2 separate regions of the Homo sapiens genome follow, and region 2 is linked to region 1. The links come from fine-mapping of genetic effects on gene expression. Tissue or cell type: whole blood. Region 1 holds a variant in brackets; the other region holds the start of a gene. All regions are shown on one strand. Distances are between the middles of the regions.

The links. PIP is the estimated chance that this variant, and not a neighbour inherited with it, causes the effect.
Region 2: it holds the start of MTHFS, and the variant in region 1 is fine-mapped to the expression of MTHFS in whole blood (TOPMed, PIP above 0.99).

Annotation. Positions count from the first base shown.
Region 1 is chr15:79,919,044-79,924,367 of GRCh38, reverse strand. ST20-MTHFS (ST20-MTHFS readthrough) reads left to right here and starts at 1,276. Exons shown (of 4, transcript NM_001199760.2): 1 at 1,276-1,329. It overlaps ST20 (suppressor of tumorigenicity 20), which reads left to right and starts at 616. Exons shown (of 3, transcript NR_037653.2): 1 at 616-916. ST20-AS1 (ST20 antisense RNA 1) reads right to left here and starts at 1,597. Exons shown (of 1, transcript NR_028330.1): 1 at 1-1,597. RefSeq lists enhancers at 1-37, 239-288, 719-898 and silencers at 429-578, 1,199-1,248, 1,259-1,328, 1,349-1,458. The variant A/G (reference allele first, on the strand shown) is at 2,144.
Region 2 is chr15:79,894,231-79,899,405 of GRCh38, reverse strand. MTHFS (methenyltetrahydrofolate synthetase) reads left to right here and starts at 2,392. Exons shown (of 3, transcript NM_006441.4): 1 at 2,392-2,534. The coding sequence starts at 2,418. The region is part of intron 2 of ST20-MTHFS (ST20-MTHFS readthrough); the gene reads left to right. ST20 (suppressor of tumorigenicity 20) reads left to right here. Exons shown (of 3, transcript NR_037653.2): 3 at 281-564. RefSeq lists an enhancer at 1,894-1,943 and a silencer at 2,084-2,383.

The DNA of each region.
Region 1 (5,324 bases):
ATATAATAATAATAAAATTAAAAAGGGCTTAGCATAGTATCTGGCCAGTAAGAAGAAATTATGATTATTATTTTGACCTTAGACCTCTCTTAACTGTCTGAAATTCGGGTTTCTTAAAGGACACAGGCGGTCTCTGAGGCTCCCGCCAGCGGAAACAATCTCCCATTAAAATAGGCATCGGTTAAATATTTGCTGAACAAAGTAAACTACGTCTCCCCGAATCCCATTGAGCGCCTACTCGAGATCCGGACCGGAGCCGGGCAGGACGGGCCCGTCGGTCCCACACGCCGTATAAGTGGGTGGAGAATACCCCACACGCCCAGACCAATAGGCGGGGTGAACGAGGACCGTGTTCACCAACTCAGCCCGGCTCGCGGAATGCCTTCTGTTCGCCTCCGGGCTTGCAGTGGCTTTCCGTCGCAGGTCAGGCCGCGTTCCACTTCCGCCGGCAGTCCAGACACGCCCCTCCGGGTCCAATCCCCGCCCCTCACACACCTGGCCCCGCCCCGTCGGGAGCTCGGCGGTCCTCTCTGCGCTAGGTCTTCTTAGCGCCCGACGGGGCCACGCCCATCCCCGACGCTCTGAGGTCACCTACAGGGCCGACCCTCGGTGGGCGGAGGGACGGAGGGAAGATGGCTGCAGAGACCGGATATTGGCGCTGCCTCCCCGAATCCCGGACCTGCGCTGAGGAGGCGGTTCATCTGTGGCCAGCGGTGCTTCGGGACCCGCGCTGGGGGAACCCTGGCGACGGGGCCTGGCCCTGCTATATGCGGGGGCCTCGGCTGGAGTGAGCGGCGTGGACGCCTCTTTCCTCCGGCTCTTCCCTTGTTGCTGCGAGAGCGAGAGGGCCGCGGGCGGCGGAGGCAGCGGGGCCGGGATGGAGGACGTTAACTCTAACGTGAACGCGGACCAGGAGGTGCGGAAGCTGCAGGTGCCGGTGAAGAAGCTGGGGAAGCAGCACGAACAGCCGAGGAGCCGCTCGCGCTGTGCTGGGCCCCGGCTCCATCGCGGTTCGCCGGCTCCTCCACTCCCTCCTACGGCGCGGGGTCCCCTCGGGGCTTCCCCTTGGGTCTCAGCGCAAAGTCGGGCGGCGGGGCCGGATGGACCCGAGGCGGACGAATAACGAGGAGCTGCGAGACGCCACCTTCTTGCTGGCGGCGGGGGAGGGCGGCTTGCTAGACGACCTGGAGCGTCTGTCAGGCTAGGAGGAGGGGGAGGAGAGCTGGTGAGCGCCGGGCGCCGGGCGGGGCTGGGCGGGGACGCCCCGGTGGCGGAGGACGTCCCGGAGGATCCCTCTGGTCGGGCGCCTGGCTTTGTGTAGCCAGCCAGGTCCGCTCTCGGCGGGTACTCGTGGTCTTGCTCTGGCAGAGGGGAGGTCAGTTGGAGTTGGGGGTTCGAGGCTTGCAAGTACAGGGCTTGTAGCTCCTTCTCTGGATTGTGGACCCTCTGGGTGCTGGGCCCTATTGGGGTTGGTGGGTTGGTTGGATCCAGAAGGGCTGTTCGCCGTGGGGAGGAGTCGGAGGTGGGAAACTGCTTTGTAGGCAGGGATTCTGCTTTGTATAGGAGACCAGCTTTCGGATGCTGGTCTGGGCATTTTGGATGTTGGGGAGGGGTTTGGCTTGATGAGGTATCACCAAGTTCGGGGGGTGCAGACCAAAGTCGCCGACGTCTATGCAGCGGTTGGTGTTTGGGATCAATTTCTAGCGTGGATGGGGAGACCATGTGGATCAGCACTCCCCTTTAGGTAGTGGGGTAAAGCTTGCTCTGTGTGAAGAGGTCAGAGGATGGTGGTGTTTTGTGTGAAGAATCAAGGGTGAAACAAGAGCCCTGGCTCTGATATTTTAAAACAAGAATTGAGTCTGGCATTTTGCAGAGCTCTGAATTGACATTTATCACATCTATCCTTCATTTCCATGTCCTCCTATGGGCAGAAAAGAGTCCTATTTTAATACCTAAACCAAAGCTGTATTGTCATAAGCCACTTCTTGATGAAATTGTGACACACACCTTAATATCACTTTCATAAATAGGAAATGGGAGGCTTTTCTCCTCATTTTATTATAAAGATGTCTGTGGGAAATTCTCTTAATTCATCCTCTTTAAAATTTTACCTTTTAGCTAAAATGTCTCTGTTGAAATTCAA[A/G]TTTCTAACTTAGTGAAATCGAAATCATTCATAGACTGTAGTATTGCAGGGCTCGAACTGTGCAGTGTTCTGAGGTAGTTAAGAGCTTTGCTGGATTCAGGCCCTGGGTTTGCCCAGGCCTGTATGACCTTGAGCAAGTTATTCTGAGCTTCACTTTCTTCCTCTATGATGGAGAAAATAATGATAGCACTTACCTCTATAGAGTTATGAAAATTTAGTAAGATAATCCATGTATGCATTTAGCACTGTTGAGATCTTGGCTTACTGCAAGCTCCGCCTCCTGGGTTCACACCGTTCTCCTGCCTCAGCCTCCCGAGTAGTTGGGACTACAGGCACTGGCCACCACTCCCTGCTAATTTTTTGTTTTCGTATTTTTAGAAGAGACGGGTTTCACCGTGTTAGCCAGGATGGCCTCGATCTGACCTCGTGATCCTCCCGCCTCGGCCTTCCAAAGAGCTGGGATTACAGGCATGAGCCACCATGCCCAGCCTATTACTCTTAAGCCTAGTTATTTAAATCAAACATTTAGTGAGCTCTTACATGATGTTATAGGAGACTCTGAAGATTCTCAACTGTTGATTCCTGTTCATAAGGCAGTTATAGTCTTGTTGAGAACTAAGTTTTATGCAGATAAATAAACTAGAAAGTGTATGGTGAATTGCCGAAAGAGAGAACAAAAGTACTGTCAGTGCGCAGTAACTGGGAAGAAAACAGTAGTCCAAAGTAGAGGGGCCAAACTTTGAGGAGGAGGCTTTGGAGTCTGGAAGTGAGGAAAGAGTGGGAAGGGCATTTTATGCTCTGACAGCTACAAGAGCAGAGTCAGAGATATTTGTAACTCCCAGTTAGGAGATTTGAATAACAGAAGTACTCTTGAGTATATGGTGACAAACCTTTATTTTTTATTTACTATTTTTTTTTTTTTTTGAGACGGAGTCTCGCTCTGTTGCCCTGGCTGGAGTGCAGTGGCATGATCTCAGCTCACTGCAACCTCCGCCTCCCAGGTTCAAGCAATTCTTCTGCCCCAGCCTCCCAAGTAGCTGGGACTGCAGGTGCCCACCCCCATGCCCAGCTAATTTTTGTGTTTTTAGTAGAGATGGAGTTTCACCATACTGGCCAGGCTGGTCTCGAACTCCAGACCTCGTGATCTGCCCGCCTTGGCCTCCCAAAGTGCTGCGTGAGCCACCGCACCCAGCCGACAAACCTTTATTACCAGGTGATATCAAATATTATTAGAGCTGACTGTGGTAGTGACAGTTTTTCATATAAATGAAATTGCATCCTCCCAAAGGAATCCTGAGTATGTATGCACTTTAAAAGAACCCAGAATCATCTAAATATTGTCACATGGCTCTTGCAAGTGATGATAATAGTGATGCTTATAATAATGAGGATTAGCTGCACTCATCAGCCTGTAGAAAGTAAAAAGTTTCCTTTTCGAAATTTCCTTTCTTGTTAAAGAATAAATCATAAGTGTTAGAAATAATAGTTTCTTTTAAAGACTAACTTCCTTCAAGCCTCCTCTGCTCTGTGCTAATGACTCTTCATTAAGCCCTATCCTATGTAGCTGTTAGATATAAGGGAATAAGTATATTCTATGTCCTTGTACTTTAACCAAGATATTTGTGCTGGACATGCTCACAGGCACGTTCCAGCTTGCAGCCTATGCCCCTTCCTTATTTGGAAATATTATTACTTTTCTAAGTCTTTTTGCAAGCAACTTCTTCTTTTCCTTTGTTCTCTATTGCCTTTCCCTATATAGGAAAGTTTTAAGTTATTAGCCAGTCGGGTTTAATTTAAATTGTGAGGTCCAGCTCCAGCCAATGGAGACAGGACACAAGCTGCATAAGGGATAAAAACTGCTTCCCTCCTTTGTTCGGGTGTGCTGTCACCATTGTTTCATCTGTGAGGAGCACCCTTTCTGCAGAAAGTAAAATTGCCTTGCTGAAAAAACTTTTTGTCTAAATGCTGGTTTTTCCTTGCAGTACCTAGGAGCAAGCATTCTGTTTCTAAATAAACATTTTACTTGTAACAATGGCGGTGGCCTGTACAGGGAGCCATTCTCCTCCGGGGGTGGGGGGGTGGGTCTCTGGTCCTCTCTCATGAGGAAGGCGCCCCACTGCCTTGTTGTAGCGGCCTCAGGGTAAGGAATCGAGACCCACCAGTTATGACAAATAAACTGGACTCTCAGCAATGTGGAAAGAAACCGGCTGGTGACCTGGAGTAAAAGATCCTCACATACCACCTGGACCAGGCAACTCTGCACAGACCAAGAAAGGAAATGCCAGGGGAGACAGTAAAATACTTCCTTGGTGGTCAGGACTAAGGAAAAAGAAGCCACAGGGCAGTGAAGCATTCTTTGGTTGGGACATACCAAGGTAAAGCATTCCTTAGGACTAAGGAAAGAAAAGCCGCGGGGAGGGGGGGCGGGGGTGGTGAAGTATTCCTTAGTCGAGGTGTCTTGGAGGTTAAAAAGAGGTGAAAAATCCCCATTAGGGGGAGATTGAACCTCACAGAAACTTCCGGTCATAGGAAAAATGTTCAAAACTTCCCTTTCCCCTATTCTTGGGGGAAGAAAGAGGCAAGGGAAAGAGCAGCAGAGAAGAAAGAGAAACTAGGAAAGGAAGTCAGAGAAAGCAAGAGCAGCGAACGTGGCTCCACATTGTTGTGGATTGCTGGCACCTGGCAGAGCGGCAGTGGCTGAGACACTCTCCTCACTCCCGGCCGAGCCAGCCAGAGCCAGCCAGAGCCACCCAGGCTGCTGGCCCCCGAGCCCCGCACCTTCCGTGCTGCTCGGGTGCATCCTGCCACCCTCAGAGGCTAGCTGGCCACGGACACCTGCAAGTTGGAGCCGAGTGGGAGACAATGAGCGCACCGGAGCCAGGAGCCTGTGCCACGCAGCCAGGCAGCCAGGCGCGCCAGAGGGTGGGTCCCTCTCCCCAGCCTGGCTCTGTGTGGAAGAGGGCAGGGACCGGTGCCGGGAGGAGAGCAAAGGAGGCGAAGGGGCATGACTCATGCAACTTGGGGCAGGCGTCTATCTGCCTAGCCGCTAGGCCGGCGGCGGTGGCCCGGACTGTGGCCATGCAGATCCCACCCAGCCCAGAAGACTAAGTGTAAGAGAAAGAGGAAACGGGATGACAGAAAAAGAGCCCAAATGAGAGGGAGAGAATAAGTGAAAGACTGA
Region 2 (5,175 bases), 25 kb after region 1:
AAAAAAACTATCTCATTAGTGATTTGACATTGATTACATACAGAAATCATTATCACTAAATATATCTTAAAAATTAATTTTTCCTATTTTTGTACTTTTTAAAATGTGGCTACCAAAAATTAAAATTACAGATGTAGGCCACACTGTGTTTCTGTTACACAATGCTCCTTTAGAGGGATAGAAGATTATTTGCATTATTTAAATGAAAATATTTTTGCTTTTTATTCCAGCATACTTAATCTCCAATGATTTTTAAAATGTTAAATTTATTCTCTCATAGGAAAATGGCTTTGTAAAGAAGCTTGAGCCTAAATCTGGCTGGATGACTTTTCTAGAAGTTACAGGAAAGATCTGTGAAATGCTCTTCTGTCCTGAAGCAATACTGTTGACCAGAAAGGACACTCCATATTGTGAAACCGGCCTAATTTTTCTGACTCTTACGAAAACGATTGCCAACACATACTTCTACTTTTAAATAAACAACTTTGATGATGTAACTTGACCTTCCAGAGTTACAGAAATTTTGTCCCTATTTAATGAATAAATTGTATGTATTTTTCTCTATATGCCATTTTTGTCTTCAGTTTTGGAGTCTGGCTGGAAATTCAGCCAAAGGGTAAAAGCTCAACACAGGATCCAGGCAATTAATTATGGGATGATGACCAGGAAGGCGGTGTCTTTTCTGCCCCAGGCAGACTTTTAAGGTGTGCCATTACCCCAAAAGTCCTTTTCTGTGTCACTAGGCTAGACTGCAGACTAGACTGAGAAGCGGACTCAGGCTAGAAGCAGACTCAGGTCGGCTTCCCTCTTCCCTCCTTCCTTCCCATGCTTTCTGCAGTTTCCAGTGCCCCTGGCTGCTTAAGAGTTTCCATTGATGCCTCCTCCCCAGCCTTCTCTCTCTGGCTTGCCATTTGGGGTTGATGGATATGGCAACCTGATATGCAGGATACTCTGGGATATTCTGAACAAAGAAAATTGGTAAATGATTCAACGTGGAGCTAGTGTTAATTTTAATTTTTATTTTTTGGTAAAAATGAACAGATTAGAAAAGTACGTAGTTTGTTAGACCTCGTGTTCTAACTTTTAGGTCAGCAAATCTAATTGCACTATGTATACGCTGTACCTGCCTGGCCTTCCCTTTTTCTTACAACACAGTCCCCCTGGGACTTGCATTAGCTTTCCCTGGAAGCTGTTGATAGATTCCATAAAGAAGCCAGAACTCCCCTCTCAAGCCATGTGCATTCTCACCGGGCACTTAATTAATGCTTTACCTAGGAGGTGTGATTCTTAACGGTGGGGATTAAGACACTGGGGCGGTCAGTAGGGACGTATTTTTGGCAGAGACAGCTCTGGTTTTCTTAGGAAGTCACATCTGAGAGGCAACCGTCTATGCCATCTGAGGCGCCTGTCTACTGGGAGCAGTTTAAGACTTAACAGTTTCTTTTACCTCTTCCTGCAAGTGCCTCACCCACCCCCCAACTGCTTTTAGTTTTAATTCATTTTTGTGTTTTAATCAGAGCTGAGTGGTGGGAATGAACAGTCACTGATGGTTATAACAGGAAGTACCTATGTGGGCACTATTACCTGGAATACATTCACACTAGAAACCCGCAAAATTTGGCTTTTACACTACAGTTATTGCTTTAGCAGTGTTCCCGATTATGTATCATCTATACATTCATCACATAAGGACATTTCCATCAACCACTGTGGTCCCTTAAGATTATAATGGAGCTGAAAAATTCCTAATACCTACTGATGTGGTAGCCAACCAACACATTACCTTTTCTGTGTTTAGATACACAAGTATCACGGTGCTTACAATTGCCTACAGTATTCGGTACAAAATACGCTGTACAGGTGTGTAGCATAGGTGTGTAGTAACTTTGTGTAACTACACTCTGATGTTTGCACAAGAAGGAAATCGGGGCATCTGTCAGACCTATCCCTGTAGTTAAGCGACTCGTGACGATTTCGCTACATGTCCTGCCTTGCCCTTCTTTTCTGGCCCCTGAAGTCCCACTACTGAACAGTACAAGAGATGCCAGGCACCGTGGGTACTGCCGGCCATCTTTACCATCCCCGCCAGTGGCGCTGCCGCCTCCGCGGTCCCGGTGAGGGCCCAGGCTCAGGGAGGTCAGGCGGCAGGGCAGCGACGGCGCCTCGCCACCGCTCCCCTAACCGGGGAGGGCGAGCCGGACCACGGGGACCGCACGAGGGCTGGGTCCCAAGGGCCAGAGGCGAGGTAAGCGCGCGGCGCGCCGCGGGCCCGCGTCCCGGAAGCGGGGTGGGGGCGCTTCCCCGAGCCCCGACCCGCCCCTAGGCCGCGGATCCACCTGGGAGCGGCCAGGGGCGGAGACCGAACCCGAGGGCGCCCAGGGCGCCGAGGGCGGGACTGGACTCGGCTTGGGCGTGAGATGGCGGCGGCAGCGGTGAGCAGCGCCAAGCGGAGCCTGCGGGGAGAGCTGAAGCAGCGTCTGCGGGCGATGAGTGCCGAGGAGCGGCTACGCCAGTCCCGCGTACTGAGCCAGAAGGTGCGAGGCCGCCCGTAGCGGAAGCCGCGGCGGACAGACCCTCCGAAGGCCTGGCGGCCAGCGATTGCTGATCTGTGCATGGTCCGTGCTGGCGCTGGGCTAGGCGCCCCCCCACCCCCCGGCGCGCGCACGTTTCCCCTCCCGGCGCGCGCACGCCCCCTAGTCGTGGTCTGGACGCTCTTGGCACTATGGCGGGGAGAGGGCCCGGTAGTGAAAGTTGTGGGGCTAAAGAGCGAGAGGACGGCAGGGGTTGACAGATTTATCTCTGGGAGGGGAGTTTGTTTGCATGGGTGGCTCTTTTGGTGCTCGAAAACCCTCCGTGGGGATGACGGTGCTGTGGTGAGAGCACGGTGAGAACAGAAAGTTGTGGTAGAGGAGATGGGTGAACACCTGAGTGCCCAGGTTCCCTCAGTGAGGCCTAAAGTTAATGAGCTACGAGTAAGACTCCGGTTATATTAGTAAAATGGCCAGAGAAAGATGCAGGTGCTTTAGACGAGGGAACACCAAAAAAGGTGTGGAGATGCCAAAGGGCAGAACTCAGAGGTTGACTGGACTTCACTAAGCATATGGAGGGCTAAGGCTGTGTCTCAGTAGCTCCAGGGCCTAGGCTTTTCCTGTCTCAGAGTTGGTCAACATTAAATGCTTTTTCTTGAGTGAACGAAAGGAAGACTTGGCTATCATATCCAGGCTTCCCAAGAACGTAGGAAACAGAAGAGAGAAATGAGAGGAATAAGTGAGGGTCCGTGTTTGTTGGTTAGCAGACCTCTGTTTCATTACTTTCACCAACTGCACTGCTATGTATTTTTAGTCTATGTAATGTCAGTTTTCTTATCAATAAAATGGCAGTCATATCCTGTTGTGAAGGCATGTTCTAAAGAGTTTTTGGGGACTCATTTTTGTTAGACACCAGAGGAAGAAAAATTTAATGTCCCCTGAATAAGTACGTATTTGTAATTCTGTTGTAAGTCAAACTGATGATCTGTCTTCCCAGCATCATGCTTCAGAGACACCAGATATTTGGAAACTTGATGTTCCTTGGAATTAGTTATACCATCAGGCTTTCTTAATTACCCTTCACTATTCTATTATCCGTTATTTACTCAAATTCAAGGTGCCTATGGGTTAAAGCAGTAAAGCATATATGCTCATTTCACCCCTCTCTTCATCTATGTAGGTGTGTATGAGGGAATCTATACAGATGTTAATTCGTTCGTTCAAACAGAATTATTTTAGCTATTATGAGGAAGCATTGCTGGGTGTTTTAGTAGATGTAAAGGATATAGACTCTTGTCCTTACTATCTAGTTGTTTAAAATTTAGCTAATTCATTCACATATGTTGAACACCTATGTAGTGCACACTTGGCTATATACTGGGTTGTGGAGATGAAAAAGATATGATTGTTGCTCTAAAGGAGCAGAGAGCCTAGAAGAGGAAACAGACATGAATAAAGAATTGCATTGAAGCCAGATATATGATAAAGGTAAACACCAATGTTGTGGAAACATAGCCTTGGGGAGGGGAAATTGGAAAGCTTTCTATTGGAAAATGTTTGAGATGAATTTCGGAGAACAAGATGAATTCTTTCAGGTGAAGGGAAAGATGGGATAGGGGAGTGTGAGTAGGGATATTTAGGCAAGAGATGACAGGATACAGTTTAGCATGGGCTTTGGAACTGCACAGATCTGGGCTGAATCTGGCGCCATTGTTTTTTAACTGTATATCCTTGGACAGGTCTCATAATCTCTCAGAACCTTTGGTTCCTTGTCTATAAAATGGATAATATCACTCTTGTAGGTCGATTGTGAGAGTTAAAGAAGTGTGTAAAGGGATGTATTCAGAGCTTTACCTATTGTTTGTTATGTCCTTTAGGAAGAGTATAATGGCAGCATTTGGATAATGGGTTGAGGAAGGAAGAAAGAAAAAAAATATGGAGACCAGTAAGGGGCTGTTGTGCCAATTCAAGTGAAAGATGAAAAATATGCAAACCAGAGCATGGGCAGTGAAGATGAGGGGAAAGGAGGCAAATGGGAGACTGTTAAGTGAGAAACAGCAGGACTTGGCAACTGATTGGAAGAGGTTAGAGAATACTGGAAGGGGAGGAGAGTCACCAGTGATTCCAAAATTTAGAGCTTGGTATAATGGTGTTTAGCCTTAGGCATAAAGAAGGTAGGAATTGGAACAAATTTTGGAGGGGCATGGGGAAAATAAAGATGAATTCAGTTTCTAATCTTCTACGTTGTCTTTCTCCGTAGAAGATTAGAATTCATAAACTATAGATGGAAATAGTTTACATAGATACAGAGTCACTGACAGCAATAGAATGACGACTGAGAGCTGGCATTAAAGGAGGAGAGAGAAAAATTAAAAAGCAGACCCATGACCCTCAGTAATAAATACATTTTACTCTGTACAAACAAATATACACATACAAGGAACATTTTACAGCTCTTAAGCACATACAATGAAATTTAATATTTTCTTTTTTTTTCAAGACAGAGTCTTGCTCTGTCGCCCAGGCTGGAGTGCGGTGGCATGATCTCGGCTCACTGCAACCTCTGCCTCCCACGTTCAAGCGATTCTCCTGCCTCAGCCTCCCAAGTAGCTGGGATTACAGGCACGTGCCGCCATGCTCAGCTAAT